Regions from separate parts of the Homo sapiens genome. Here all the other regions are linked to region 1. Evidence: fine-mapped expression QTL. A gene starts in region 1. Each other region holds a variant in brackets. All regions are shown on one strand. Distances are from middle to middle.

Region 1 (5,073 bases):
TTTTTTTAATTAAAAAACAACGTAAGTGGGAGTGGAATGGGGTAAGGGAGGTGAATCATTCATCAAATGAAAATTTATTTAAATACCGTTGTCTGTGATAAAGGAATAACCATTTCAGAATAACACTGGAAGAATTAATTTAAATGGATGCACTTCCCAATATTGTTACTGTTTTCTTTGGTATTTCATTAACATTGTGAGTGGGGAGGTGCTGGGGTCCATGGTAAAAAAATAAGTAAGTGAAAGGCAAACAACTTTGCTTTCTAGTGGATTTCCCTTATTACCTAATGAGGGCAGCAGCTTACAAGTTGATTGTGTTCAATTCAACAAATTTGTTTTAGTACCTAAGTGCCTGCTATATGTACAGAGTGAAGAAAGAAATAACCCTACCTTTAAGAGAGTTTACGGTCTGGTTGTGTTGATTCACCTTCTGAGAAAAAATGTTATTTGCTTTCCTCAATTTTTTTCCTATCAAAAGTAAACATAGGTTCAAACATTCAAACCTATGAAGGCCTAAAAGGAAGAATCATCTTCAGTTTGCTGTGACGATTTCACTGAGTTTTATTTTAAAATATTCATTTAAAAATACATACAAACATATAAACCCATCAGGCCAGGTTCTAGTGATCTGAGATATAAGCATGATACAAACTACTTGGCTGCCGTGTATTTTTGTTTTATTTTAATCCAGGTGATCAGGTCTGTATGGGGAAAAAGCCCTGGGGCTTTTTCAAACAGGAAGGGCCCTCCTCCCTCTGAATGCCCGCAGTGCCGCCCTGTGCACTTTACAGAACAAGGAGAAAGTCAGTTTCTTCAAACTGCTTTTCTAAAGAGCGTTTCCATTCGTGGTCCTGGTGATTCCACCATCTTTTCTTCACAACAGTGACGGTTCTGGAATTTCTACACAGCCTGAGGGGCTGACGGGGTAGACCAGGTGACTGGGAAGGGGCAGTGGCACATGACAAAAATTTGAGGAAACGTCCAGTTTCCGTTTCAGGGAATGCGCATAGGGGAAAACGCAAGTCCCCACGCCATCACGGGGCCCTCCACCGCGGCCGGACGACCCCTCTCTCGGGAGTGACTGGGGCAGGGCACCTGGCCTCAGGTTCGAGCGGAGCCTGCACTGAGAGGCAGGAGTTGGATGAACCACTTGTAGGGTCTGCTCCCAGCTACCCAAAGCGAAAGGGTGGGCGAAAAAGCATTTGCAAAAGAATACATTAACCTCACAAGGAACGACCCCCACCACCCATCCTCCAGCGCCCAAGGTTTCCCACGAAGAGGTCGCCGTCGCCCTTCTCCAAGTTGGGTAGAACCTATAAGGCATCACCAACTGCATCTCAAACCAACCAAGCAAGTGACGCTCCAAAACCTCCCTAAATACCCTCTCTCCCCAGCATTCCGAACGCAACATCAAGGGCGAAAAGAGGCTGCACAAATCACGTAGAAAATTAGACCGCCTCTTTCCATGGCGATAATCGAATTAGCCTCAAATTAAACGTGAAATTGGCCCTCTCCGGCTGTGGAGACAAAGCCCCTATTGTCCTGCTCGGGTAGCGGCAGCAGCAGTGCCCACCCCGCCCCGGCCAGCCTGGTCGGTCCCCGCCGCTGGGAGGATGAGGTCCGGGCTGGACCCGGGAAGAGCCTCAGCTGGAGAGGACGTGGACGCGCCCGAGGCTCGGCTCCCTGGGCGGCTGCGGGGCTCCGGGCAGGAGGAGAGGGCGGGCGAAGCAGAGGGAGCGGGCGGGAGTGGGGAGGGAGGAGTGCGGAGGGCGGAGGGCGTGCGGGAGGGATCCCGGGAGTGCGCTTGTGTGTGTGTGCGCGCGCGCCCGCCCCGCGCGCTCCTCTCCCCGCCCCTCGCCCCCTCCCTGCGAGCGCCCTCCTCTCCTCCTCCCCCCGCCCCCCGCGCTCCCGCCCAGCCCCCGGAATCAGTGCCGCTGTTGCCGTGCAGGCTGCGGATTCCTCCAGTCCCTCCCTCGGCCGCCTCTCCTCCCGGAGCGAGCGCGCAGCCCTGCGCAGCAGCGCCCACTGGTCCCGTCCTGTGAGCCCCGGCCCCAGCCGCGGACAGACCCGCGGAGTCGCCTCCCGGCCCACCCGCCCGGCCGCCGAGGAGCGGGAGGAGGACGGGACCCCGGCGCCCCCACCCCATCCCCGGGAGGTAGGTAGGGGGCCCGAGGCAGGGAGATGCCAACTCACTGGGGCTGCCTCCCGGGTGGGCTCCGCGGCGGCGGACGGGCGGGAGGAGGGGCGCGGGCCCAGGGCCGGAGGACGCCGCTGCCCGCCTGCCCTGCGCCCGGGGAGCCGCGTGGGGGCAGGGAGGCTGCAAAGCCCGGGCGGGGGCGGCGCGGGGAGCCCGGGTCGCGGGTGCTCATTGGTACTCGGATGATGCGGGACGAGGGGCGGCAGGCTCTGCGGTGAGGCGGCAGCAGACCCGCCGTGCGCACCGCTGCCGTCCGGCCCCAGCCCCGGCGCGGCGCGGCGATTCCTCCTCCCTGCCTCCGCCGGCGCCTCCCTGCAGCCGGGCGCGGCGGCCCCTGACGCGGAGGCCCCTGGCGCGGAGGTGGGTGCGGAGCGGACAGCGGACAGCCGGAGGGTCTATTTTCAGGTGCCCTCTCTGTGGCCCCGCGGGTGGGGAGCGGGGGCGGCGGTGACAGGGCCGGGCTCTGCGCGTAGCGGTGCAGGGGATGCGGCCAGGCGTGGTCCCGGCTGCGCCGCGCTGCAGCTGAGCCGGAGGCGGCGGCCCCGCGCCCCCACCTCCGCCCCATCCCTGCGCTTGCTACCCTCGTGCGCCCGCCCCCCCCCCGCCCTTTCTGCCGTCCCCACTCTCCCAGGGCTGGGCGTGAGCCGCCTCCGGGCGCCGAGCCGCCGCTGCGCCCGCCCTTCAGCTCCTGCCACCCTCTCTTCAACAGGTTTGTCTCAGCGCAGGGACCCTCCGGGCCTGCTTTGGGTAGGTGGGCTGGCTCGTCATCACCCCCCACACCACGCCCACGGCCCTCTTTTAGGGGGCGCCTTCTCTTTGTTTTTGTGATAGGAAAGGTGCCAACTGCTGCCATCAGATGAGGAGGGGGTGGGGATCAGAACGCAAACCTCTGTCCATTATTTTTCCAATCGAAAGCCAGGCCAGATAGTAAGTGAGGACAGGGTGCGTGTGGGGGTGCTTCGGCGGAGCAGAAAATTGAATTCGGTGGGGTTTATTTGGGCGGGGATGTGCTTTTTTGGCAAGATGGATGGCTCACGGTGCCCTCGCCGTGATGCAGCACAATGCAGCAGTATCGCAGCTTCCTTGGTTCTCGCTGGCGGGGCTTGGCACGGCCGCTCGGCGCCTGCGGCCCCCGCCCGGCCCCACCCAGGCCCGGGGCTGCCCTTGGCCGAGGCCTGGAGCTGCTGCTACCTTGTCCTGCAGCTTCTGCTGGATGTGGCGTCAGGAGGACCAGGTCAGCTAGGTGTGAGCAGGGGAGAGTCTTTTCTTTTGGGATGATCCCTCCTGCACCTCTTCTTGGGCTGCGCTCTGCCGGAGGGGCGCCCTGCATCACCAGTGCAGGCAGAGGGGAGCCGGCCTGTGGTTGCGGATCGGAATCTGATCTGCGACCAGGGGACCTGAGCCATAGGGAGGGGCTGCAGGAAGGACTGGGCCCAGTGGTGTGCGGAGGCAATGTTGCAGTGTGGGGAGTCGCAGCGTTTTTCTGTGGATCGTCCATAATCTGTAACCACAACCCAGCTATGCATTAATTTTTTCTACGTGAAAAGTTGGTGTTTATTAATTGGACCTTCACAACTGTGACATTACAGTACCTCGTCTGTCTTTGGTTAATACCAAGTATGCATTTTTTCTGTAGGAAACCATTTTTAAATGAAATGATTAATGCATTTTGGGTTTTATGTCACTAAGACATTTATAAGTATATTAAAATTCAGTAGGTTGTTTTAAAAGGAATTTATATGTTTTTTAATGGATAGTAAATGATTCCTTTAGCTTGTATTTTGTTTTCATCGTTTGCTTTTTCTAAGTCAAGTACAGTTGCATTATTTGGATGCTTTATTAAGGATTATTAGGTGTATGAGTGTCATGATGGGGGCTAAATTGGTATTCAGATTTCTATTGATTGAGGTAGCCAAGTTAAGTGTCCGGGCGTAATTAATGGGATTATGACAGTAACACTGCGTTTGTGTTTGTTTATATGTATTTTTTGTATACATATTTTTCACAGCTGTGACTGGGGAGAGGGTGGAGAAGGGCAGACCACCAAGGCCTCTTGACTGGCATCTAGTCAGAAGGAGATGGTTCCCAGTGTTCTCATGTTTAGTCTCGGCCAGGACACAGGGAATTTCCCTTCTAAATGCCATCTCTATAATTCATTATTCAGTGTGGGATGGCAAATGGGATATATTTCAAATGTCAACCCAGGCTTTCCTAAAATGTTTAGGTGAAAAAGGAAATTTCAATATGCTAGTTGGAAGGGAAGGTCAGTGTTTACAAGCCAAGGGCGTGCCTGCTTGTATTTTTAAATATTTCTAATGAATCCAAGTTAGTTGCTTTTGATTTCATGTGGCTCTGCAGAATAGAACTGCATGTACATTGTGTGGTGTATGTGCGTTATTTTGAGTTTCTCTAATAGCCATTAAAATATGAGACTTTTTGTGCTGGTTGTGTAAAATCGTGTTGCGTACAGATTTTTATGAATGTTGTTCCCATGGATCATCCAAACGTTTTGGATTTACTTTGTTGTAAGAAATATCCTGTGTTGATGTCACAGGAGGTTTAGCTGTTCTGACTTACACAGCAGGTGCAGAATTCTGTTGGGTTAAGCTCTTTGTAACTCTGTCATTACTGGAGTGACCAAAACCTTCATCTGAGAGGAGAAGTATTGGGCAGTGAAGGAACTGCTGTCACTAGGTCGTCTCCCACAGTTGAGGTTTTCTGTGAAGAACTTCTCTTGGGCAAGACTAGTAACAACTATCTGTGATGTTGCAGAGCAAATGAGAAGACCTCCCTCTACTTGTGACACATCCTGAGCAGAGGCTTGGCATTGGCAGAGTTTCCTGGAAGGGTTTGTAGAGTGGTTGCTTTGTCTTGAT
Region 2 (5,073 bases), 180 kb after region 1:
TCGAGGAGCGGTATAAGGAGGTGGCAGAGCTGACGCGGCTGCGGAAGCAGGCACTCCAGGACACTCTGGCCCTGTACAAGATGTTCAGCGAGGCTGATGCCTGTGAGCTCTGGATCGACGAGAAGGAGCAGTGGCTCAACAACATGCAGATCCCAGAGAAGCTGGAGGATCTGGAGGTCATCCAGCACAGGTGAGCGGGGCGCTGGTCAGCCACTGGCCTGTTCCTTGTGACCACCAGTGGCCCAGGAGGTGACCACCCTGTCAAATTGCCATTTCAGATTTGAGAGCCTAGAACCAGAAATGAACAACCAGGCTTCCCGGGTTGCAGTGGTGAACCAGATTGCACGCCAGCTGATGCACAGCGGCCACCCAAGTGAGAAGGAAATCAAAGCCCAGCAGGACAAACTCAACACAAGGTGAGCACGTGGCCAGCAGTGTGCCAGCCTCCCACGTGTGGGACTGGGGAGGGTGAGGTCACTCATCGAGCTTTGCTGTTGGGAATTTCCCACATGGGGTCATCGACATTGCAACACTGATGTCATGGCATTGGCACCTGCCTTTTGACATGTCCTTGTTTTGTAAGAAGTGTCTCTCAGGGCAACATCATTGGTTGCAGGAGGATTATCTGAGTCAGCCCAGCATCTGCCCCTCGCCACACCAAAGTTAGGGCCTTGGTTTGACCTGTGTCCAGTGTAGAAGGTATTAAGATGACACCTGTGCTATCCATTTTATAGTAACTTCAGGAACAGGACTCTAGCATGTTTAACACTTAATTTGCCAATGAAAGTCCTGATTGTCAGGGCAGACCTTTGTTCCAGTCTTATCTTTCTGTTGAGTAAACATGTTTGAGTAGGTTATGGCACCTGGCCCCAGTTTTGAAGGTTACCATCAGTCTTAGATTTGGAAAACGTTCATTAGGTAGAGTTCAGAGATGTGTAAAATGTGTCACAGACATGAATTAATTGACTCTGGGAATGGATATCTTGTAATTGCTCACATTGGAGCTCTGTAACACATTCCTCTTCGTGACAGGCTTTTTCCAGATTACATTGCATCCCTGAGCTATTTCCATTATATTTGGTGTTCACAGTTTGAGTGAGATGATTTTCCAAAAAAGCATGTAGTCAAAGCACAGATGGAGAAAACAGATAAGCAGCATTAACCCATCACTGTTCCTTTTGCAATCCAGCCATGGTCAGTCTTCCCTTTTTCACACTCGCTGTCTGCCCCTGCACTCACAGGTGGAGCCAGTTCAGAGAACTGGTTGACAGGAAGAAGGATGCCCTCCTGTCTGCCCTGAGCATCCAGAACTACCACCTCGAGTGCAATGAAACCAAATCCTGGATTCGGGAAAAGACCAAGGTCATCGAGTCCACCCAGGACCTGGGCAATGACCTGGCTGGCGTCATGGCCCTGCAGCGCAAGCTGACCGGCATGGAGCGGGACTTGGTGGCCATTGAGGCAAAGCTGAGTGACCTGCAGAAGGAGGCGGAGAAGCTGGAGTCCGAGCACCCCGACCAGGCCCAGGCCATCCTGTCTCGGCTGGCCGAGATCAGCGACGTGTGGGAGGAGATGAAGACCACCCTGAAAAACCGAGAGGCCTCCCTGGGAGAGGCCAGCAAGCTGCAGCAGTTCCTACGGGACTTGGACGACTTCCAGTCCTGGCTCTCTAGGACCCAGACAGCGATCGCCTCGGAGGACATGCCAAACACCCTGACCGAGGCTGAGAAGCTGCTCACGCAGCACGAGAACATCAAGAACGAGATCGACAACTACGAGGAGGACTACCAGAAGATGAGGGACATGGGCGAGATGGTCACCCAGGGGCAGACCGATGCCCAGTACATGTTTCTGCGGCAGCGGCTGCAGGCCCTGGACACTGGATGGAACGAGCTCCACAAGATGTGGGAGAACAGACAAAATCTCCTATCCCAGTCACATGCCTACCAGCAGTTCCTCAGAGACACGAAGCAAGCCGAAGCCTTTCTTAACAACCAGGTAAGGTTTGTTCCTGCCTTTGCTTCCTTTCGGTGAAAGCAGCCCTGGCTGCCTTTTGAAATGTTTTGGCTGGGGCAGCTGGTTTAAACCACACCTGTATGGAATTATATGGATAATTTAGAGACTGATTTTTTTTTCCCCATACTCTTAAGGCATTGAAATCCATCACGTTGTAGGGGACAGGAATTGAAAGTTGCCATAAGAGCTGCTTTGCCTTACAAAGTACTGTTTGATTTCAACTGCCATTGAGGATCTCTTATGTGTTCATAGTATGTCTTCATAATTGAGGTATTGATCCAATTTAAAAGATACAGTGAGGGCCAGGCATGATGACTCACTCCTGTAATCCCAGCTCTTGGGGAGGCTGGGACAGGAGAATCACTTGAGCCCAGCAGGTCAAGGGTGAAGTTAGCCGTGATCGTGCCACTGCACTCCAGCCTGGTGGCAGGGTGAGACCCTGTCTCTTAAAAAAAAAAAAAAAAAAAAAGTACGGTGAGGATTTTTTTTTTTCTTGAGACCAGTCTGTCTTCTTGCTCTAGAAGGGTCAGGGACTTCACCTGAGGACACAAAGTAGAGATTAGAGAAATAAAAACAGCTGAGGATAGTCACCAACTTCAGGGCTGTTACTGTCTCAAAGAGAGAGTATGAAGGGTA[C/T]ATTGCTGTTGCCTTGATAGGCACGTGAGAGGACCCTTGAGGCTGATACACAAAGCTTTGGTTCCTTTCCTCACTCTCTTTGGAAAAAAAAATTTAGAGCATTAACCCCTGAGGGAAATTCGGTCAGTTACAGTGTCCCACTGGGTTTTTTTCCTCCTAACTTTTAATTTGATGTGATTTAATTATTTCATGTAAGTGTAATGAAGAAAGTGTTGTGAACTATGTTGCACGGAAATGTAGAACACAGGAAAATGAGATCCTTCATTGATCTGCTATGATTTGTTCCTCTTTTTAAATAAGGAGTATGTTCTGGCTCACACTGAAATGCCTACCACCTTGGAAGGAGCTGAAGCAGCAATTAAAAAGCAAGAGGACTTCATGACCACCATGGACGCCAATGAGGAGAAGATCAATGCTGTGGTGGAGACTGGCCGGAGGCTGGTGAGCGATGGGAACATCAACTCAGATCGCATCCAGGAGAAGGTGGACTCTATTGATGACAGGTACAGTTTTCTGAGGTTCTTAAGGGAGCCTTGCACCTTGGGGCTCTCAAACTTCTGAATCATTGGCCAGAAGCCCTTGGGAGTTTAGGTATAAATTTCCCAGTGGGCAGAATATGGGTGCCCAGCAGAAGTTCATCTACCCATACAGAAAATTAGTGAGCTGTGCATGACTGCCTGAGAATGTGGGTCTGGTGAGACATGTACAAGTGTCCACAAAAGGAAAGAAAGCCTGAGAAGCCAAGCTAATTCTTAACCGAGGACCTGTAAGAGCCGTAGTGCTGCATCGCGATCAGGTGTAAGCCATGCCCTTTGAGGATTAACACACGCTTGTGTCACCTGATAGGACCCCTGGCGCCAGGTATTCCCAGCCAAGCCCGTGTTCCCCTTCATCCATGAGAAAGAAGCCTGTCAGGAGAGTGGGAAGGGAGGGTGAAGCTTGCTTGTTCTGAGTACCTGGCAAAGCTACAAAGGAACATTACCTGGACTTTTTTAGAAAATTGGCTTGGATAGTGCTGTAATAGGATCTTTTTCATGATGGAGAGGTAAATAAGAGCAAAGGTTATTTTCCTCTTCTGCCAGGGCATCTCCAGGATTGGATACACTTTCTTCATTTCTTGTTTAAAATTATTTTTTTATTTACGTGTGTGTGTGTGTGTGCGTGTGTGTGTCTGTCTGTCTGTCTGAAAGATTTCCTCCCCGGCTGGAGGCCAGTGGACTCTGTTTGACCCTAACTCTTTGACTCACTCCTTACTCTTGCCTTGCCCCGGTTACTTAAGTTGGAGGTTGGGGCAGATCAGGGGTTGGATGCACTAGCACAGGCCAGTCTGGGCCAGCCACTGGATCAATCACTAGCCCCTGTTCCAGTTTGGGTTGAATTTAAGGGCTTGCTGTGAGACTGATGTAATCAAAAAACAAGCCCTTCCTTTCTGCCTCTCTTCTGGCCTTCAAGTGTGTTGGAAAGGAAAAATATTCCTTTGCTTACCACATCTGAGAGGGTTTCCTGGGACCCCTGGTCAGGTTGACTTAAAATAAGATGGGTGGAGAGGGGATTACTCTGTTTCCAATAAAGATTGAGCTCCTGTCTTTACCACTTCCAATCTTTTTTTCTGAGCTGATTCCCAGGCTGAACTATATGTTCTAGGGTGGTATTGTGGAATAGAGAATAACTTATGTTAATTATAATTTTGTATCTGTTGCTTTTAAAACAGCTGCAAAAAAGAAAAATAAATCCACCAAACCCTCCTTAAATGAGCATGAGAAACAGCAATTGGGCAAAGCATTCATAACCTAGGGAAAAAGAATTTCCTTTTTTTGTAATATTAACTCTGAGTATTTTGTAAATAAGATATCCTATGTACTTCCATGTTAGATGCACACAGCTGGTTTCCTGCAGGCGGGCTTGGCTGTTAGGGATGTGTGCATTCAGGCAGGCATGCAGCTGCCTTGCTGCTTCCTCGGTTTCTTTTTATGTCCCCAGTGCTGCAACTGCACAAAGCTGTTGGAAGCAGATGATGCTGTCTAGACTCCTGGATATGATAAAACGTTTCAGCAGCAGCAGCCCTCAGTTGTGGCTTAACCTTCATTTTGCCCTTGACCAAGAGCCTGGGCTACTGGTGTTCCAGAGCTTCCTTAGGATTCCTCAGTTTTAAAAATGAAACGTAAAGATAACCCTGTACTATCAATAAGCATAATAAAGATGGAAGGAGGGAGCTTTCCGATGACCTGCCATCAGGAGAACTACATTTTCTTATTTTTCTCCATTGATGTTAACTGAATTCTGATTTCACTTTAATATCCCCAGAGGCCCACAGAATTGAAACTGACCCTAGAGGGTACTTGTCAGTTATGAAAACACACACATCTGTGAGTTCCAGGTGCTGTAGGAGCACAAACTAAGTAAACATCTAAACCTTCAGAT
Region 3 (5,073 bases), 50 kb after region 1:
AAGTGCACTGGGTGGGACTGACTTGTTCAAATCTCCGTTAAAGCAAATGTCTGATTAGGAGAAAAGTAAGGGAGTAATTTGTTAGGAAAACTACTTTCTGAGGTGCCCCCACCTCCCCTCCTTCCAACCTGAAGAGGCAGAGAGGTTTGTGTAAACAAAGGTCCTGCAAGGCACAGCTGTTTTACATTCTGATGTTCTATGACTTTCTTAAATAAAAACCTTTTGGATTTTCATATCTATTTAGCTAGTAGGAATATTTCCTCCTTTTTCGGAGAATAAAATCCTAGACTTAAGGATATTCCTTGGGTGACTGAGAAGTCATACCAGCCTAAGCAGTACAGCTGGCCCCCTGTATCCATGGCTTCTGCATCTGTGAATTCAACCAACCATGGATAGAAAATATTTGGGAAAAAAAATCCACAAAGTTCGAAAAAGCAGAAGCACGATTTGCTGCTTACTGAGAACTGCATTGAATCCATGTGAGTAAGGTGATGTGTAGGCGTTGTATTAGGAATTATAAGTAATCTTTAGGTGATTTAAAGTATTTGAGAGGATGTGTGTCGGTTTTATACAAATACTACACCATTTTATATAAGGGACCTGAGCGTCCATGGATTTTGGTATTCATAAGAGGTCCTGGAACCAATTGCCCATGGGTAGTGAGGGATGACTGTATTTTCTAATTAAAAGGTTTTTTTTTTAATAAGCAAATGTTTTACTTAGTACCTTATAATATTTTAAAAAGCGTAAAATTCCCAAATAAAGTAATTGGTTTAGTGATAAATATTTCCAGTGGCGTACTTAAAATGAATGTTTTCATCAGAATGCAGAAGCTGTTTTGAGAACTTTTTGCTCATTATTTTCAGTGGGGTTGTGAAATCCAATGAAAACGTGTATAAATGTTTGTAGAAGAATACTTTGTTTATAGAGTGCAAATATTTTCTTGATATGACAACACCCCAAACAAAGAATGGTTACAATTAAAGTAATGGTGATTCAGTTAAACATAGAGCTGGAAAAGCCATTATTTTGAAATATCTTCTGAGCCTCATTGAAGAGAGAGTGTCTTACACACCTTGGGAACCAAGTTTTGCATATTATAGTATTACCACATTGTATTCGATCACAAGAATGGTGTGAATACTTGGTGGTTAAACAAATTATTGATGCTTGTTAGTTGGATGAGATCTTGGAATGCATGCATCCCGGCTTCCCACACAGTACTCAGTTCTTTCTGTAGCTATCCTGTTGAATATATGGAGAGTACAGTATACTTTCAGGCAAGATGGTCATTTAACAGGTCATTATTTAAACATTGTTTCAGTGTGTGCTGTGAAAACAACAACAATAACAACAACAAATCGAATACCTCTCTGCTCTCTGCATTTTTGGAGCGCTCTAGCTGTTAGAAAGTACCTCCTAACCCCTAGCCACTGTGAAGTTGTTGCTCCCTGCCTGCTGGGAAATCTGTGCCAGCTCTCCCAGGAAGGCTCCTGAAGCTGCCTGCACATACCTGCCAGGTGTGTCTCCTGGACTTTTCCCCAGGGGTCCTAGCTCCTGGGCTGGGTCTCCTAGGTGTCTTACAGCCTGGCTGCCCCTTCTGGACACTCTTGGCTTGGTCAGTACCTGGGGTGATTTAACTTGGCGTCTAACAGTGAAGCTTCCTTTAGTTGTATCTTCTGCTGTTGCTTCACATTGAGCTTGCCACGTTTTCCTTGAATTGCTGTCAGTTTTTCTCTCTTCCAACCTTGGGAACTTTATTTTTAAAAATCTGGGCCAGGCGCGGTGGCTCACGCCTGTAATCCCAGCACTTTGGGAGGCTGAGGCGGGCGGATCTCGAGGTCAGGAGATCGAGACCATCCTGGCTAACACGGTGAAACCCCATCTCTACTAAAAAAACAAAAAATTAGCTGGGCGAGGTGACGGGTGCCTGTAGTCCCAGCTACTTGGGAGGTTGAGGCAGGAGAATGGCGTCAACCCGGGAGGTGGAGCTTGCAGTGAGCCAAGATCGCGCCACTGCACTCCAGCCTGGGCAACAGAGTGAGACTCCGTCTCTAAATAAATAAATAAATAAATAAATAAATAAATAAATAAAATCTGAATGCAAGACTGTATGTGTGCTTGAATAATTTGAATCCTCTCTTGGCCCTGGGACCTTCCCCGTGCTACATGTGCTTTCGGAGGTTGTGAGGAAAGGGCTGACCAGGCCATGGACCTGTCCCAGAGCCGGCACCCTTGAGCATGGCTGCTCAGACAGCAGTGAAAATTTGTCTTAGAAATTTGAAGTTGCTTTTGAAGCTTTTTGGTCAGTGAGAGAACTTAAAAATTCTCATGTAAATATAATTTAAAAAATATAGATGACTCAATCTACAAGAGCTTATCTGTTTGGTTTTTTTTTTTCTACTTATAGTTTACATTTGAAAAAATTTACCACTTGATGAACTGAGTAATTTTTTCTTCTTGATAGTAGAGGAATTGGTAGGGAAAGTGCTTCTAATACTCTTCGAAGCTGAGAAAATTTTAAGTATAAAGTTTGTTCATTAAACATTTGTGTATTGTTGTCTGGGAGCTAGACACTATATTTAGGGATACATTGATGAAAAAGAGAGAAATACCCAATAGTTCTTGGAGAGTACAGTATACTTTCAGGCAAGATAGTCATTTAATAAATACACAGGTAATTATTTAAACACCATCGTAGTGCGTGCTATGAAAAAACAACAAACCAGTAGGAACATAGAACAGGAGAGGCCCTGGGCTGGGACTAGGGGTTTCAGAAGAGTCTCTCCAGAGAAAGTAAAGTTTAGGTTGATCTGGTTCTCTCTCTTTTTTTTTTTTTTGAGCAACAAGACTGTTTATTTCACCTGGGTGCAGGCAGGCTGAGTCCAAAA[A/C]AGGAGTCAGCAAAGGGTGGTGGGATTATCATTAGTTCTTACAGGTTTTGGAATAGGCGGTGGAGTTAAGAGCAATGTTTTGGGGGCAGGGGGTGGATCTCACAAAGTACATTCTCAAGGGTGGGGAGATTATATAGAACCTTCTTAAGGGTGGTGGAGATTACAAAGTACATTGATCGGTTAGGGTGGGGCAGGAACAAATCACAATGGTGGAATGTTATCAGTTAAGGCTATTTTCACTTCTTTTGTGTATCTTCAGTTGCTTCAGGCCATCTGGATGTATACGTGCAGGTCACTGGGGATATGATGGCTTAGCTTGGGCTCAGAGGCCTGACATTCCTGTCTTCTTATATTAATAAGAAAAATAAAATAGTGGTAAAGTGTTGGGGTGGGGAAAATTTTGGGGGGTGGTATGGAGAGATAATGGGCAATGTTTCTCAGGGCTGCTTTGAGCAGGACTGGGGCAACATGGAAACCTAGTGTGGGAGAGATGAAGCTGAAGGAAGATTTTGTGGTAAGGGGTGATAATTGTCGGGTTGTTAGAAGAAACATTTGTCGTATAGAATGATTGGTGATGGCCTGGATATGGTTTTGGATGAATTGAGAAACTAAATGGAAGACACAAGGTCTGAATAAGAGAAGGAGAAAAACAGGTATAAAAGGACTAAGAATTGGGAGGACCCAGGACATCTAATTAGAGTGTCCAAGGGGGGTTAGTGTAATTACTTGCTTGGTTGGCAAGCTTTTAGGCTCTATCTTTGAGTTTTTTTTAATGTTGTCATATACCAGGCCAGATTGATTTAGGTAAAAATAGCACTCTTCATTTAAAAATATAGAGTCCCCTTTTTTTTTTTTTTAGCAGTAAGTCGAGACCTTTGTGATTTTGGAAGAAAGAGAAATGCAAAGCCAGCAATTGTTTGTTAAAGAAGGATTAGAAACGGCTAGGAGAGAGTAACTGAGATTGATAGTGTGATAGAGATAGCTGGGGAGAGGTAGAGGGTGGCATAAGAACGGGAATGAGAATAAGAGTAAGTATAAAAGTAAAGAATAGGACTTCATCAGGGTGAAAGTATTGGAGGGTACCTTGCCACTGAAGATCTTCTATCCACTTAAAGAGAGACTTAAGGGTGGCAGTTTGAGGAAAAACCAGGTGCCACTGAATACCAACAGCCTGAGAAACTGCTTGGGTGATTTGACTAGTAAAGGCCGGTCCGTTATCGGACTGTATAGAGGTGAGAAGGCCAAACCGAGGAACTATGTCTGACAGAAGGGAATAAATGACCACGGTGGCCTTCTTAGACCCTGTGGGAAAGGCCTCTACCCATCCAGTGAAAGTGTCTACCCAGACCAAGAGGTATTTTAGTTTCCTGACTCGAGGCATGTGAGTAAAGTCAATTTGCCAGTCCTGGGCGGGGCAAATCCCCGAGCTTGATGTGTGGGGAAGGGAGGGGGCCTGAGAAATTCTTGAGGAGTAGTAGAATAGCAGATGGAACACTGAAAAGTGATTTCCTTGAGGATAGATTTTTGCGATGGAAAGGAAATGAGAGGTTCTAAGAGGTGGGCTAGCGGGTTCTAAGAGGCGGGCTAGCGGCTTGCAACCTACATGGAAGAGGTTATGAAATGACGAATAGAATGGGCCTGTGAGACTGGAAGGAGATTTTTCTTTGGTCCAAGAACCATTTGCTTTGTGTGGGAAGAGATGGGTGGAAGTTTCAGCGAGGGAGTAGGTGGGAGTGGCCAGATGAGAAGGAGGAAAACTGCCCTGAGGGATAGAAGTTGGAACGCTAGCTGCTTTTTTAGCTATCTTATCAGCATAGGCGTTGTCCAGAGCAATGGGATCTGAAGCCTTTTGATGGCCTTTGCAGTGAATGACTCCGGCTTTCTTTGGAAGTAAAGCAGCCTTGAGAAGAGTTCTTATTAAAGAGGCATTATTGATGGAGGACTCTTGCATAGTGAGGAAACTTCTTTCTGCCTATATAACAGCATGGTGGTGCAGGATATGGAAGGCATATTTAGAGTCAGTATAAATATTGATGGGTAGTCCCTTTGCAAGAGTGAGGGCTCAAGTTAAGGCAGTGAGTTCAGCTTGCTGAGAGGTAATGGAGGGGGGCAGAGCGGTAGCCTCAGTGATAGATGTGGAAGATACTATAGCATAGCCTGCCTTTGCTGGTGAGTGGCGATT
Region 4 (5,073 bases), 110 kb after region 1:
TTTGACTCCAGTCCCAGCTGCAGCTGCTGCCACACCTGTACCCCACAGAAGTTGTGATTCCTTAAACCTGCCCTGCATTTTGGCACCCTTGACACCCTGCCCTCTTGGTTTCTTCTGCAGGGAATCATTTCATGTGTCAGGATCAGTCTTTTGAGGTTCAGTTCAGATGCCACTTATTCTAGGCATTCCAGGAGGTTGGGGAGGTCAACATCCCTGCTTGGACTCCCTTCCTTTTAAGATTTGAAGTTTCAGCGCTTGATCATTCACCTGTGATTTTTCATTACTGCCTTTTGTTACAGTTCCAGTCTTTGTCTTTTTGTTTTCCCTGTATTTCGTGAAGTCTGGGAGCCTGAAGACCAAAGTCTGAATAGTCTGTCTTACACATACAAGCCGCTAAATATTTGCTAAAGAGCAAAATTAATGAAGTCAGTGTTATAGACTCCCTTATTGCTGTGGTTCCCAAATTGAGGTTCTCAAAATGAGGTCCCCAGGTCAGCATCAGCATCATCTGGGAATTGGCTAGAAATGTAAAATCTCAGATCTCCACTTCTCACCTACTGAATAAGAAATTCTAGGGTGGGTCCTACCAATAAGTGTTTCCAGCTACTCTGCCAGGTGGTTCTGGTGCACACTAAAATTTGAGAAATAGTCCCTTATTGGATCATTTGTACAATCTTTGCAAAATTTTGTGGTGGGGATGGAGAAGCAGACTCTTTAAGTTGCTCCCAAACAGGAGCAGGTATTATACCTGATTTCTTATAGAAGAATGAAGAGTTGGGGGAAAATATGTTTTTTAGAACAAAATTGTGAAACAGTGGGAAAAACATTAGCTACTCAGGAATGGACTCTGTCCTGCTTAAATTAGAGAAGCCGTTGAACATCTGTCTCAGCCACCTCTTCTGCCTCAGATGACCCTCAGGTGGGGTCAGTTACCTGCCTCAGTTCTCCCACAGTTGGCTCAAGAGCCACTATAGAAAGAGATATAAGTTTAGAAAAAATAGAGATAAACCTAATAGTGTGTGTAGGCTCTAAGGATAGTTCAGCAAGGCATCAAGGTTAGTTTCACTTATATTCTTAATAAATAATCTATTGAATTTAACCTTAAAAAACAAAAATCCCAGCAACTTGGCATCTGTAAGGGAGACAGATCAATATCTAGGCTGCTTTCCTTATTTGAATAACTGCCAGGTCTGCTTCACAAGATTGTGTTGACCAGCAAATGATATGATCTATATGAAGTTTCCCTGGAAACATCCATGTACTATTAAAATGTGAAGGATGGCTGTTGTTTCCATGACTGTATTCCTTTTAAAGAAAACTTCTACATATAAATGAACACTGACAATTCCAGTATTGTTGATTACTAGTAAATATAGTACAGCAATTCAAGTAAGGACTTCAGGGTTTGTTTTTTCTTTTAACCTTCTGGAAAATAATGTGGACAGTGACAGAGCATTAAGTTTTTAGTTAATGATAGCTCCACCTCTTGTGCACATAATCAAAACAGACCAGGTGGGGTTTAGCCACTTGTAGATCCTAGTGCCTTTTCTCTCTTGACAACTTTCTATCAACTCTGAAACCCAGCTATGAAAAACAAATGAAAGGGGGAAATAAAGGATAAGGGCATTGTAAGCATTTTTCTTTTTTCTTTTTTTTTTTTTTTTTTGTTGAGATGGAGTGTCACTGTGTCGCCCAGGCTGGAGTGCAGTGGCATGATCTCAGCTCACCGCAACGTCCGCCTCCGGGTTCAAGCAATTCTCTTGCCTCAGCCTCCCGAGTAGCTGGGATTATAGGCGCCCACCACCACGCCCAGCTAATTTGTGTATTTTCTGTAGAGATGGGGTTTCGCCATGTTGGCCAGGCTGATCTCCAACTCCTGACCTCAGGTGATCCACCCCCCTTGGCCTCCCAAAGTCCTGGAATTATAAGCGTGAGCCACTGCGCCTGGCCCCTGTAAGCATGTTTTTCAAATGTTTAATATTCTCTGCTGCATTGACTTAAAAGTTTGACAGGCCAAGCTCAGTGTCTCATGTCTGTAATACCAGCTCTTTGGGAGGTCGAGGCAGGCAGATCACCTGAGGTCAGGAGTTCGAGACCAGCCTGGTCAACGTGGTGAAACCCTGTCTCTAATAAAAATACAAAAATTACCTGGGCATGGTGGTACACGCCTGTAGTCCCAGCTACTCGGGAGGCTGAGGCATGAGAATTGCTTGAACCTGGGAGGCAGAGGTTGCAGTGAGCCAAGATTGCGCCACTGCACTCCAGCCTGGGCGTCAGAGTGAGACTCCATCTCAAAAAAAAAAAGTTTGATGATTGTTAAATCATTTTGTTGGTGCAGAGAACCTGCCATTTAAAATGGCAGTTGTTGGCACTAACTTAGACTACTTTAAAAGCAGGAAGGATCCTAGGAAATAAAACACTAAAATAAAACTTTAAAAAATACAGGGCTTGCTCTTTTGGTATTCTACTTACTTATTAACAAATATTTATTGATTACCTGCTTTCCAGTGAGCAGCTGTCGTCTGGTTAAAAAGTGCATGGGTGTGTTTCAGCTGTGCTGGGAATGCTGGCTAAGCCAACTGATTAATAGAAGCAAGTGGAGAAATAAACTTGATCTAGGTAAGAGGTGAGGAACTGAGGTAGGGGAATCTGTGCAGGTTCAGGGTTACTGGACCTTAAAGTACAGAGTGAGGATGGGGTGGTAGGAAGGATTCTAGAAGGATAATAAAGGATGCAAGGCCCTGTTAGGTAAAGGAGTTTGGACGTAAGGCAGTGGGAAGGTACTGGAGGATTTTTATTTTATTTATTTATTTATTTATTTTTGGAAACAGGGTCTCTGTCACACAGGCTGGAGTGCAGTGGCACAATCTTGGCTCACTGCAACCCTCTACCTCTTGGGCTCAAGCCATCCTTCCACCTCAGCCTCCCAAGTAGCTGGGACTACAGGCATGCACCACCCACCAT[GC/G]CCAGCAATACTGGAGGATTTTAAATAGGAGAGGATTTTAAATCTGGATTTTTAATTTAATTTTATTATTTTTATTTGTATATATTCACGGATTGCAAGTGCAATTTGCTACATTCATGTATTGCATTGTGGTGAAGTCAAGGCCTTGAGTGTATCTATTACTGGAGCAATGCACATGATACCCACCAGGCAGCCTCTCATCCACTTCTTAAATATAAATATACCTATTTACATTTATATATAAATTTCTTAACTCTGGTCACTGAGGCATGCTTTATTCTCTCTCTATATATATAGAAAGGCTAGTCTGACTGCTGGTATGATGATCGTTTTGGAGGGTGCTGGTCAAGGAAGGAGACAGAAGACCAGTGTTTTATTTGCTGGAGTGAGAAACTTAGAAACGACATAACCTCCTAGAATTTTGAAAGTGAAATAGGGGACTTAGAACCTTGTTATTCAGTATAGATAGATGACTTGGGGTTTGTTGGAAATACAGCATCTCAGGCCGACCTCCCCACAGACCTCCTAAGTCAGAATCTCGTCTTTTAAAAATCCCCAAGTGCTTTGTATGCCTGTTCAAGTTTAAGAAGCACTGCTGGCAGTGCGTGGTGGCTCACGCCTTAATCCCAGCACTTTGGGAGGCTGAGGCGGGCGGATCACCAGAGGTCGGGAGTTCGAGACCAGCCTGGCCAAGATGGTGAAACTCCGTCTCTACTAAAAATACAAAAATCAGCCGGTTGTGGTGGCGCACATGTGTAATCCCAGCTACTCTGGGAGGCAGAAGTTGCAGTGAGTCGAGATTGCACCACTGCATTCCAGCCTGGGCAACAGAGTAAGACTCTGTCTCAAAAAAAAAAAAAAAAAAAAAAAGAAGAAGAAGCACTGCCTTGGAAGTAATGGTGTCTGCCTTCTAACTCCTATGAACAGACAAGGAAATAGTTTCATTAAATGGAGGAGTTTTTGGTTTTTTTGAATAAACTGGATTATTTTAACTAAATATAAAAATAATCTTGAGTATAATAGTTAATTAAAGGAAGTTTAGTATTGCTCTAGAAGATTACAGGGCTTTAAAACATAGTTAACTAATTCTGAGCTTTAGAAGTAAGTCTTTTATAGAATTTGGCTGGGATTTTCCTATTTGCTAGTCCTGCAGTTCTAGAAATTTGTGAGGTAAAAAAACAGTTTCTTTTCATATTTACCCATTGATATTAATGGAGAATCACAAAAATACCCTGGGTCAGTTTCTCTAAATTATTCCAGAATTTCAGCATGATGTCCTGGGAAGTAGAAATTTATGAGTCCATACCTGTTTTATGACTTAAACCTTTTAAATACTTTAAAACTATTTTTTTCAGAAACAAAGCACAAATACTCTTCTTCAGCCACACTTCATCTTAGTAGAATGATCCTATATTAAATGAACGTTCCTGTTCTTGCAGTTGGTTAGACTTCAGTCTAGTTTCATGCACATCAAACTTACCTAGTGGTGCCTTCAGGTTTTAGCGCTAATAGTGGATTTGAAGTATGTGAAATATCTGTTACATGGTAAGTGCTCATTTCCTCTGAGTTTGTAGGTGAAACTTTAAAATTACTGGTTATTGATTGGGTAGGGGAGAAAAAACACCTGCTGAAACTTGTTGGCCGGAAGTTTTTACCCCTGGGAAGAAGAAAGGAACGGGGTGGGGGAGATAAGGGAATTCAGTTCTTGGCTGGCAACACTCCAGAACCGTCCTGATGGAAGGGTTGTGGCCAGTTGAAAGCAGCAGTACTGGAGAGGGGACTGGGGGTTGTTCTTTCAAAGGCAGGGTTGAAGGTTATTAATGGACTAAGTTAAATTTCTAGCTGTTCCTTCCTGTTACTCTAGATACTTTTTATATATTTATTATGTCACAGCAGTATTGACGCCCTGAAAAGAAAGAAAAGTGAAAGAATAGTTCACGTAAGATCCCACAAGTCCTACAAATTTTAACTTTCCAATAGTTAATATATATAAGCACACACATATACACACACGTGCAGTTTAGAAGTGTTAATATAGACGAGTTTTGTCTTGGCTTTTTATTTTTTACTTAACATCATCTTAAGCTTTTCATATGTGGTTATTTCTG
Region 5 (5,073 bases), 130 kb after region 1:
TTGTGGATACATAGTAGATGTATATATTTATGGGGTATGTGATGTTTTAATATAGGTATGTGATGCTTAATAATCACATCGTGGAGAATGGGATATCCATCCCCTCAAGCATTTATCTTTTGTGTTACAAACAATCCAATTATACTCTTAGTTATCTTTAAATGTACAATTAACTTATTATTGATTAATTCACACTGGTTCCCACCTTAGCTCTCATCTTAGAAGAGGTAGTTGTGTTGCTTTGCCTCTTATTTTCGGAGAAAGCCCCCATCATAACCTCAGCTCCCTCCAGAGTCTTGGCTTCTTATGGATTGTGACTTTATGCGGCTCACCTTGACGTACGACTGTGACAGAGGCAGGACCCTGGTGACAGAGCCTCATTTCTCAGTTATTGTGGGTCTCCTCTCAGAAGTTGTGCCTGCAGTGCCTTGGTCTCCACATTGGCAAACTGGGGTTGTGCCGCTCAGAAGAAAGGCCCTCTGGAAGCTGCAGGAGGGACTGCCCAGCAGATGCAACCTGTAGGTGCCAGGTCATAGAGAGCTCATGGTGGGTTTTGTAGTCGGCCCATCAGACAGTTACTAGCAGACAATTGCATATTTGCTTCACATGCATTTAGAGCAAATATTTACATGTGTTTTGTCCATGATGCAAGTTAAACAGTTAAGGAAACTATTGTAACTCAAATTCTATTTTTATACAAATCAGCAAACATGAATTTAAGGCCTTCAGACTAGTCCGTCACAGGGAGGACTTCAGTCAAAAGATTAGTTTCCTTCCTGTTGCTGCCTCAAGATAACAGTTGGATTCTCTGTTATCAATACAGCCAGCTGCCTGTTTCCGGCTTCCTGCTCTGTGTATTTTGCATGTTACTCATGGGAAATGATTTATTTATTTTTTCAAGCTAAGGCATATAGGGGGACTCCACCCTACCACTATTCTTTTGTTTTGAGTTAAGATCCTTTTTTATTCTTTATTTTAAAACAGTTCAAGAATTAAACTTTAATATATAAATTGTTAAAGTTGCAACAAATTAAGTCTTGTGACAATTGACCTGATTGGGTCATGTTTAAATAATGTTGTAATATGTTACAATGATGTCCTAATCACACCGTTGTGTATTTTGCAACTTCACTTTACCGTACAGGTATGTGGTGGCAATTGCCCAAAGATAAAACAAGCAAACAAAAAACAGAATTTGTCAAACATTTTAGTTTGGCTCTGGACCCATTTTAGTCTGAATGACAGCACCACAAAATTGCATTTTTATCCGTATTTCAGACATTGAGGAATTGCAAGAAGCAGTTCACCTGTCATATATTTTTAGTGCTATACAATGACAACATTTAACTGCCTAGGGCCTGTCTTTGTGATATGAAATTTCCCTCCTCAACAATTTCAGTGAGACCACCACCAACAATAAGATTTATCGAGAACCTAGTTGTTGGACACTGGAGGTTTGCTGACTCATTGAACAAATGTTTATTGTGCACCTCCTTTATGTCATGTATATGCTAAAGCTCTAAACATGAATAGGATTGAGCCTTTGCCTCTGAGCCAACTGCAAGTTAATTGAAGAGATAGGACACAAGACGTATAATAAAAGATGAGAGACCACATCCCATCAAATGATGATTGCTGACATCTGATAGGAGAGGGCCTCTTGGTAGAACTAATCTTGGCTGGATCTTAAAGGAAGGGTAAGAGAAAACTGCCTTCTAGGTTAGAAGAATGATAGAAGCAAAGATGGGAAAAAGCAGTGTGCAAGGTGAGAGTTCAGAGCATGAGAGTAAGACCTGTTAGGTTGGAACAAAAGACGGCATGTCAGGGAAGTTCCCAGATGAAGCTGATGCCTTAGGAGAGCCCGTTTGGGACCTTTAAATGCCAGGTTCAGAGATTTGGACTGTCTTCTGGATAGCTGGGGTCCGTTGAAGGTTTTGGTGCAGTGCTGCAACTTTGAAAAACCACTGATTGAGGAACATGGCTATGGTAGTGATGTTTAAGGTGGATTAGAATGCGGAGAGAGGCCCAAGGCAGGGGAGTTCAGTTGGGGTCTGAAACCACCCAAATTGTGGTGAGCTTTGTTCAAAACACGCAAAAATAGATTGTCAAAATTATTCTCTTAGCAACTGATCTTGTACTTCTTTGTAATGTCTTTTTGTTATTTTTTAACTTTTTATTTTGTATCCCCAGCTAGATTTCTAGTTCATTGAGGGTAAGAGACTTTATCTTAGACACAGAGTTCTAGGTAAAGTATGCACTTTGTAATATTGGAGCTCACTAATACTCTCAATTTCAGATTAGTCAGCTAACACAGTATTATTGATTTAAATAGTGGGGATATGTTCATGGGATGATTGCTTCCTCCCCTTTTGATTTCTTCTTAACTTCCATCCCTGTAATTCCTTTCTTTCTTACTTTGAACCCAAGACTACACCTAACTTAACTATATGTCTGTGCAAAGCAAAAACTACATGATTGCTGTCTCTTACTTAGGGGGTAGGCCATTATCTTAGCACAATTGAAGAGCCTGATAGAAAATATTACTGGGTTATACGTGCAGGTTCAGACTACTTGAAAAGTAAAAGAAAGATTCCTTCTCTTAAGCCAGGTATAAATTCAGTCTTTAGGGGAACAATGAATAGGGTCTTTTGACAGTTCCTGATTCTATGTTTCCTTTTTTTTCCATCCGGAGATGTTCCATGCCTTCAGGCTTTCCTTCATTCCTGGCTCCCATCCCTTTCCATAACCAGAACTGTGGCATATGGTGAATATAGTTGTGTTTAGCACTCTGTGCTGAGGGTATTGCAGAAAGATGCCGTACAATCATTTCCATCATGCA[G/A]TGCCCTTCTGCTCATCAAAGCTATTTCTGTATCCTAACTTGACTCACGCTAACACAGTGTTCATTTTTTCAGTTATAGCAAATTCTCTAGAGTAAATAAATATGGGGCTGGGTGCAGTGGCCCACACCTGTAATTCACTTTGGGAGGCTAAGGTGGGAGGATCACTGGAGACCAGGAGTTTGAGGTCAGCCTGGGCAATCTAATGAGACCCTATTTCTACAAAAAAAAATGAAAAAGCCAGGTGTGATGGTGCATGCCTGTAATCCTAGTTACTCTGGAGGTTGAGGTGGGAAGATTGCTTCAGCCCAGGAGTCCAAAATTACAGTGAGCTGTGATCACACCACTACACTCTAGCTGGGGTGACAGACTCCTTCTCTAATATATTCATTGGTTAATTAATTTAAAAATATAAATTAAAAAATTACATAGACGCATTACAGCCTTTCAGTATTTATCACAGTCATTCCCTAAAAAGAAAAGAAGTAGATGTTATGCTTCTAGAAGAGGATGATGGTGGAGAGGATATTCACAGCCCTTTTTTTTAACCATTAAGCAAATGTGTTTCTCAGTTCTAAATATTTCATACTTTTTTTTTTCTTTTTTCTTTTTTTTTATCTGAGACAGAGTTTTGCTCCTGTTGCCCAGGCTGGAGTGCAAAGGCACCACCTTGGCTCACCGCAACCTCTGCCTCCCGGGTTCAAACGATTCTCCTGCCTCAGCCTCCCGAGTAGCTGGGATTACAGACATGCGCCACCACGCCTGGCTAATTTTGTGTTTTTAGTAGAGATGGGGGTTTCTCCATGTTAGTCAGACTGGTCTCAAACTACTTCTGACCTCAGGTATTCCACCTGCCTTGGCCTCCCAAAGTGCTGGGAATTACAGGTGTGAGCCAACGCGCCCAGCTACCTCATCCTTTTTTTCTAATACATCTTCTAAGAATTTCAAGTTGTTTATCAGAAACCAAACAACAAAAGATAGTGAATCTCAGTATATGACAGGAGAAGGTGTAGCTATGCATCTTAATCCCTCTTGCCTGGCTGGAGTGGGAGAGAAAGAGCCGAGGACCTCACCACTACTGGCTGGTGACACTTAGCAGCCCTTAACCTCACTGAGCCTTGGGCTTTGCTAGAGATAACTCTAGCATCCCACCTACCTAATAGTTTGCTGTGAAGATCTAGTGAGCTTAGAGAAAGTATGAAGTGCCATTCAGATGCATGGCAATGTTATTGCAGACACACCATCTTATAAAATTCCATCTGGAGGAAGGAGCACCATACTAGGATTTCCCTTATAATTTACTCCTTCTGGGAATCAGAATCTGATGTAAATGCCACTCACTTGAGGGTGGGTTTCTTGTCTCAGTAGTTCTCATTGACAGTAGTTAGCTAATTTACTTATCTCTGAGCCTGTGGAACTAAAGGCTGAGCTGGTTGGGTCTTCACACTCAGAACCATTTCTGGTTCCTAGGTTCTCGGGGCTCCAAGGTCATTTTGGTAGAATTTGTGGTCCTGAGAAGCTTATTTTGAGACCATTGTTAGGAGCCCTTCTTTCTGTCTCCCACCCCTGTCATGTCACAGAGACAGCCTCACCACGTTCCTCCCACGGAGGGCTGCTGGTTCTTTTTGTCCTTTTTTCACTTTGTTTTCCACTTTCCTCCCTGGACTGCCAGAGCTGCAGCTGCCTCGAGTCCTGGGTTGTGTTGGTAGGTAAGTGATGTCCAGGCTGCCTAGAGGTGGGGTCCTCAGGTGTGATCTTGGATCCCACTTGTACCACATTGTACAGCATTGCAAAGAGGGGATGGTGAGAAGTGTTTGAACCTGAGGGCCTTTACATGGAGAAGTGAGGAGACCTATTCTGCATACTCTGAAGGTGGTGCAAGCCATAGTGGGCCACAGAGACAGGTCTAGTCTTGATGGAGACACCATCCCAACAGATGGAGAGTTACCCAATAATGCAGCAGACCCTTTACAAAATAAGGACTTGCGTTAGTTAGGATGGTGAGATGGTGGGTAATTCTAAGTCTTGTATCATGGAAACACTTTTTTTTTTTTTTTTTTTTTTTTTTTGAGACAGAGTCTTAACGCTGTCGCCCAGGCTGGAGTGCGGTGGCATGATCTTGGCTCACTGCAACCTCCGCCTCCCAGGTTCAAGTAGTTCTCCTGCCTCAGCCTCCTGAGTAGCTGGGTTACAGGTGCGTGCCACCATGCCCGGCTAATTTTTGTATTTTTAGTAG
Region 6 (5,073 bases), 170 kb after region 1:
GATGAGGGCCAACAACCAGAAGGTCTACATGCCCCGGGAGGGGAAGCTCATCTCTGACATCAACAAGGTAAAGTGGATCTGGACTCTGCATGGGCCCTGACCTCCTGGAGGCTTCAGGTTCTATCACTAGGTCTCGACTGCTAAGAGGACAAGAGACTGGAAGGGGCTGTCCCCACCTGCCGAATTGACAATTGGCAGCTGGTGCTCAGGTGTGGCAAAGGACCAAGCAAGCAATGGTACCGGGTTAGGCTGCTGGAGGCTTCAGGGGGCAATGTTAGATTTTATCAAACCAGCTTTGGCGTAGGCTATACACCTTGCTACTCAGATACATATCACTTTACTTCTCATCTGAGGCAATTGTTTCAAACATCTTTAAATTACAGAAAGGAGAAATTGAAACCTTATTTCATGTGTTTCATAGTAGTTGTGGGGCTTAGGATGTTGGCTTCTTGCATTAGAGATGCTGTCAAATAAGCAATTTTAATCATCATGCCTATTATGCCTGCAGTTATAGAAATTCACAGCAGGCATTATTTCCAACTAGAAAGAAATTTGAAAAATTCTAGAACTTTGGTCACTTGTACAGAACTACATTCCTTTATGCTGCTCATTAAAATTTTTTTTTTAATGGAGGCAGGGTCTCACTATATAGCCCAGGCTAGTCTTGAACTCCTGGCCTCAAACAGTCCTCCCACCTCGGCTTTCAAAGTGCTGGAATTATAGGCGTGAGCCACTGCGTCTGGCCCCACTTAGATTCCTTCGAGTGGAAGGTTTGATTTTTTTTTTTAGGTGAAGAAATAGATTTCCTAGGAATGAATTTAATATGGACAGTAGGTCAGGATTTTGAAAGAAATTTCAGATGTGTAAATTTTTTAAAAGTGGCCCAGGGTGGAATGAATGAGAAATTCATATGAATTCTTAGAAGAATCATTTATCTTTTTTATATGATCAAAGCTATTTAAGATAATTTATTTCCTCTTAAAGTAAGAGATTTATAATTTACTTATATTGCTTCATAGCTACAGTTTTGTTTTCCAAGTACAACACAGAATCTTTAGATTTAGATGACGGAAGAGTGTTCCCATGAGGATACACTGAGAGAAAAACCCGTTTTTTTCCTCAAGGCTTGAGAGTCAGTGAGAGTGGGAATGGGATTTCCCATTCAAGCTGTCAGGTCCTTTTGAGAAATATTAGCTGTTGACTGTAACCACGGAAGTTTCCTTGAACACTGCAGGAAACTGTGTTTGTGTGTGTGTGTATTTTCATTTTTGTAGGCCTGGGAAAGACTGGAAAAAGCGGAACACGAAAGAGAACTGGCTTTGCGGAATGAGCTCATAAGACAGGAGAAACTGGAACAGCTCGCCCGCAGATTTGATCGCAAGGCAGCTATGAGGGAGACTTGGCTGAGCGAAAACCAGCGTCTGGTGTCTCAGGTTCTGCTCTTGACATTATTAAAAAGACTGTTGCTAGGGTAATCTAGAAACACAGACCATCCCCAGGGGCATAGGGCCAGAGGACAGCTGCTTATCGACATTCATTATTCTGGAGGAACGTCAGGTCACCTTGGCCCCTTCCCATTAAGAGGATGTTTATAATTTCTAATATACATTTCTATTTATCTAACTTTTCATAGATTTGGAAGCAGCTCAAGCAGAGTTTGTTTTAGAGCCATTGAGTGTGTGTGAACTGTTCACATTTATAAGTTTTAACAGTTTCTCTCTTTTCTTTAATCTTTGACCAACTAATCCTACGAGGCAGTTAGACTGGTTGTGAAATAAACAAAAATGGCTTGCTTTTCCACCTGGCTTGACATAAGCTATCACCTGCTCTAGCTTTTCAGTAAGGTACTAGATACGAACTGGGCCCTTCTGCAAAATGAGCAGTTACTAGTTTGCTTTGAGGAGGGCATCTAAGCTCAAGGCAGAGACCAGTGGGGTGGGGGACTCAGGAGTCAGATTTGGCTTTAAGACCACCAGGGATTAATGTGTGCTCAAGATTTCATGTCTGTTCTTTTTCCTTTTTTGGAGGGGGGGTGGCGCGGGAAATAGGTTTTTTGGTTTTGTTTTTGTTTTGTTTTTGAGGCAGAGTTTCACTCTTGTCATTCAGGCTGGAGTGCAGTGGCGCAATCTCGGCTCACTGCAACCTCTGCTTCCCAGGTTCAAGCGATTTTCCTGCCTTAGCCTACCAAGTAGCTGGCATTACAGGCACGTGCCACCACGCCCGGCTAATTTTTGTATTTTTAGTAGAGACAGGGTTTCACAATGTTGGCCAGGCTAGTCTCGAACTCCTGACCTCAAGTGATCTGCCCGCCTCGGCCTCCCAAAGTGCTGGGATTACAAGCATGAGCTACTGTGCCCGGGTGGATTTTTTATTTTCCTTCTTTTCATTCCGTTTCTCTGTAGGACAACTTTGGGTTTGACCTTCCTGCAGTTGAGGCCGCCACAAAAAAGCACGAGGCCATTGAGACAGACATTGCCGCATACGAGGAGCGTGTGCAGGCTGTGGTAGCCGTGGCCAGGGAGCTCGAGGCCGAGAATTACCACGACATCAAGCGCATCACAGCGAGGAAGGACAATGTCATCCGGCTCTGGGAATACCTACTGGAACTGCTCAGGGCCCGGAGACAGCGGCTCGAGATGAACCTGGGGCTGCAGAAGATATTCCAGGAAATGCTCTACATTATGGACTGGATGGATGAAATGAAGGTAAAACCTGACCGAAAGGAAGGACGACAGAGCTGATCCAACCAGGGCTCTCTTTTCTGTGACTCATTCACTAAACCCCTACGTACAGCTGTGTGCCTTGTCTAACTGCCCACATGTACAGCTAGAGAGGAGCCACATCACCCATGGGAAGATTGCTAGCTCAGGAATTAAATGAGACGTGAAGTGTGAAAAAGTTGTAGAGACCAGTTCAGTAGCCAGAGCTCTGTTTCTGTGACTTAGATATATTCCAGTGTAGGGAATCAATCACATTGTGGTTTTCTTTATTTTTAAGTTTTCAGGGTTAAACTAACTTACCGTTTCATTGATCTGTGAG[T/C]GAGTGGTACTACTTTGGGCAGGGGTCCCGGAGAGGTGGTATGGGGAGAAGGGAGGAGTGGTAGGTGCCATGGACAGAGGAGAGGTCAGGAACCAGGCAGCCAGAGTTCTGATTGTGAGTGCCTGAGTTGCCTAATCCTCTTTGAGCCCTCTTTCTTGGTCTTTAAATGGAGATTGTACTTACTATCTACCTCATCCAATTATTGCAAGGATGGAATGCGGTAGTATGTGCACAGATCATGGGATGGGCTGGATGGCAGTGGCTGGTCATGCCATTTATTGACTGCTCTTAGCATAGAGTTCCAACCTTTCCCCCTTCCCAGGAAGAGACCTGCTATCATGCCATGGCCCTGTACCTGTTCATGTCCTCCAATGCAGGCCATGGAATGCTCAGCCATGCCAAGCAGTTCTCCAGCTGGGAGGCCTTTAGCCTTGTAGACAGAAGAAAATAGGACAGTTTTCAGACAGTCCCATGAAGCTTCCTTTGTCTCAGCACGCTGTGTTCCCAAGCTTGACCTTATGCAAGAGATTCCCTTCCCAGGATATAAGCTGTCATCTGTTGCCTACCTCTTGGACTGTTCCTGACAGAGGGGCAAAGTCATCTGATACCATCAGTTTTCCCTCCTATTGTTCCAGATTTACAGTGTTCTTAGGTCTGGTCTCTCTTGACCTCTCAAAATAGAAATGTTCGTAAAATGTAGCAGAGAGGGACTTTTCATTTTATAAATCATGATGCACATTGTAACTCAGTTGGTCCAGAGACTTCCTCAGAAGTAAGAGTGAAGTAGAAATCTCATCTGGCGAGGATGTAGAATGAGGCCCCCAAATTTCGCTGGTTGATGGAAGAAACAAGAAAATATCAGTGGGTTCAAACTTAAACTCTAGAAGTTGCTTGGGGTCTACTAAGCAAGACAGCCACCTGACCCTGCTCTCCTTATTGGTTTAAAGATGTGGCTTGTAAGCTTTTCAAGTAGATTGTTTTCCCATTGATTGTGTAAGTACAGTAGAGGCATACCAATAAGCTCCTAACAGAGGAAAAACATTCACTTACAGGCTCAGCAACTTCTAAAAGATTTCTTTCAACTTTGAAGTGACCAAGTCTATCACCTTTATTTATTTATTTTTGAGTAGTTGTTGCAGCGGTTTCTTCTTGAAGCTCCAGTTTATATTTTGGAATCTTTCATACAGCACCCCCGCCCACGCTCCCCACTGCCCCCTCCCCCCCACCCTGGCCCCGCTGGCCCTCACCATCTTTTTCTTCTATTCTGCACTTTTTAGTGTAGATTTGACTTACTTATTCCAAGTTTGGTGATCCTTAGTTTGTGATAGCTCTCCTGACTCAGGCCTTCAGGTATGATTTGTTTTGTTCTGGTTTGTTGGCCATCATCTTCCCCTGAAGGTGTGGGGTCCATGGCAGACTAGAGGGAAGGCATAGCTTCATTGCTGGCTCTCTGCTTGTCGAAAGATGATGTGATGCTGAAGTCAAGGCTATAGTCACAGATGTCCTTTTGGTTGCTTCTTGTGCACAGGTGCTAGTATTGTCTCAAGACTATGGCAAACACTTACTTGGTGTGGAAGACCTGTTACAGAAGCACACCCTGGTTGAAGCAGACATTGGCATCCAGGCAGAGCGGGTGAGAGGTGTCAATGCCTCCGCCCAGAAGTTCGCAACAGACGGGGAAGGTAAGGATGGCCCATTCCAAGCATTACCTCCGGGTCACCAGAGATTCATATTTATAGAAACACAGTGGGGCTTTTGAAGTTACTGTGCCACTATACATTCCTGGTGGGTTTGTCATGGGAGCATGAAATACGGTGGAGTGGCCTTCTGAACACTAACTCCATCTTGTTTTTCTGGAATTGATACATCCTTTCCTTAAATACGCAAATGCTGCCTTTGCTTTGAGTGGCTTGGTGTTTGGCAGTGAGACTTTGTCATACCTCAGTCTCTCTGGCCATGCACCGACACCCTGGTGTGGCTGTTCCAGCAGCTCCTGGCTTTCACAGCTGGTTGCATATACCTCTCTTTGGAGGA

Alleles and levels. Alleles are on the strand shown, and positions count from the first base shown. SD is a standard deviation of normalised expression in the study named. Not every link is listed here.
In carriers of allele G in region 4, the expression in tibial artery of the gene that starts at base 1,964 in region 1 tends to be higher than with GC alone (small effect, 0.24 SD a copy in GTEx).

Evidence for each region. PIP is the estimated chance that this variant, and not a neighbour inherited with it, causes the effect. A credible set is the group of variants that fine-mapping cannot tell apart.
Region 2: its variant is the best candidate, but not a certain one, in a credible set for the expression of SPTBN1 in blood mononuclear cells (TOPMed, PIP 0.85).
Region 3: its variant is the best candidate, but not a certain one, in a credible set for the expression of SPTBN1 in gastroesophageal junction (GTEx, PIP 0.54).
Region 4: its variant is the best candidate, but not a certain one, in a credible set for the expression of SPTBN1 in tibial artery (GTEx, PIP 0.57).
Region 5: its variant is the best candidate, but not a certain one, in a credible set for the expression of SPTBN1 in blood mononuclear cells (TOPMed, PIP 0.59).
Region 6: its variant is the best candidate, but not a certain one, in a credible set for the expression of SPTBN1 in amygdala (GTEx, PIP 0.89).

The regions. Positions count from the first base shown.
Region 1 is chr2:54,454,364-54,459,436 of GRCh38, forward strand. SPTBN1 (spectrin beta, non-erythrocytic 1) reads left to right here and starts at 1,964. Exons shown (of 36, transcript NM_003128.3): 1 at 1,964-2,155.
Region 2 is chr2:54,629,614-54,634,686 of GRCh38, forward strand. SPTBN1 (spectrin beta, non-erythrocytic 1) reads left to right here. Exons shown (of 36, transcript NM_003128.3): 14 at 1-190; 15 at 279-416; 16 at 1,242-1,998; 17 at 2,953-3,155. Among named protein-coding and RNA genes, the nearest start is that of SPTBN1-AS2, 48 kb to the right of the region's middle. RefSeq lists enhancers at 1-111, 341-390 and a silencer at 581-640. The variant C/T (reference allele first, on the strand shown) is at 2,653.
Region 3 is chr2:54,504,069-54,509,141 of GRCh38, forward strand. All of the region lies in intron 1 of SPTBN1 (spectrin beta, non-erythrocytic 1), which reads left to right. It also overlaps the pseudogene C9orf85P1. Among named protein-coding and RNA genes, the nearest start is that of SPTBN1, 50 kb to the left of the region's middle. The variant A/C (reference allele first, on the strand shown) is at 2,892.
Region 4 is chr2:54,564,538-54,569,610 of GRCh38, forward strand. All of the region lies in intron 2 of SPTBN1 (spectrin beta, non-erythrocytic 1), which reads left to right. Among named protein-coding and RNA genes, the nearest start is that of SPTBN1-AS1, 8.4 kb to the left of the region's middle. The variant GC/G (reference allele first, on the strand shown) is at 2,965.
Region 5 is chr2:54,588,945-54,594,017 of GRCh38, forward strand. All of the region lies in intron 2 of SPTBN1 (spectrin beta, non-erythrocytic 1), which reads left to right. LOC124906008 (a long non-coding RNA gene) reads right to left here and starts at 490. Exons shown (of 3, transcript XR_007086322.1): 1 at 1-490. RefSeq lists an enhancer at 671-720. The variant G/A (reference allele first, on the strand shown) is at 2,840.
Region 6 is chr2:54,623,530-54,628,602 of GRCh38, forward strand. It overlaps SPTBN1 (spectrin beta, non-erythrocytic 1), which reads left to right. Exons shown (of 36, transcript NM_003128.3): 10 at 1-67; 11 at 1,275-1,433; 12 at 2,403-2,705; 13 at 4,568-4,721. Among named protein-coding and RNA genes, the nearest start is that of SPTBN1-AS2, 54 kb to the right of the region's middle. The variant T/C (reference allele first, on the strand shown) is at 3,040.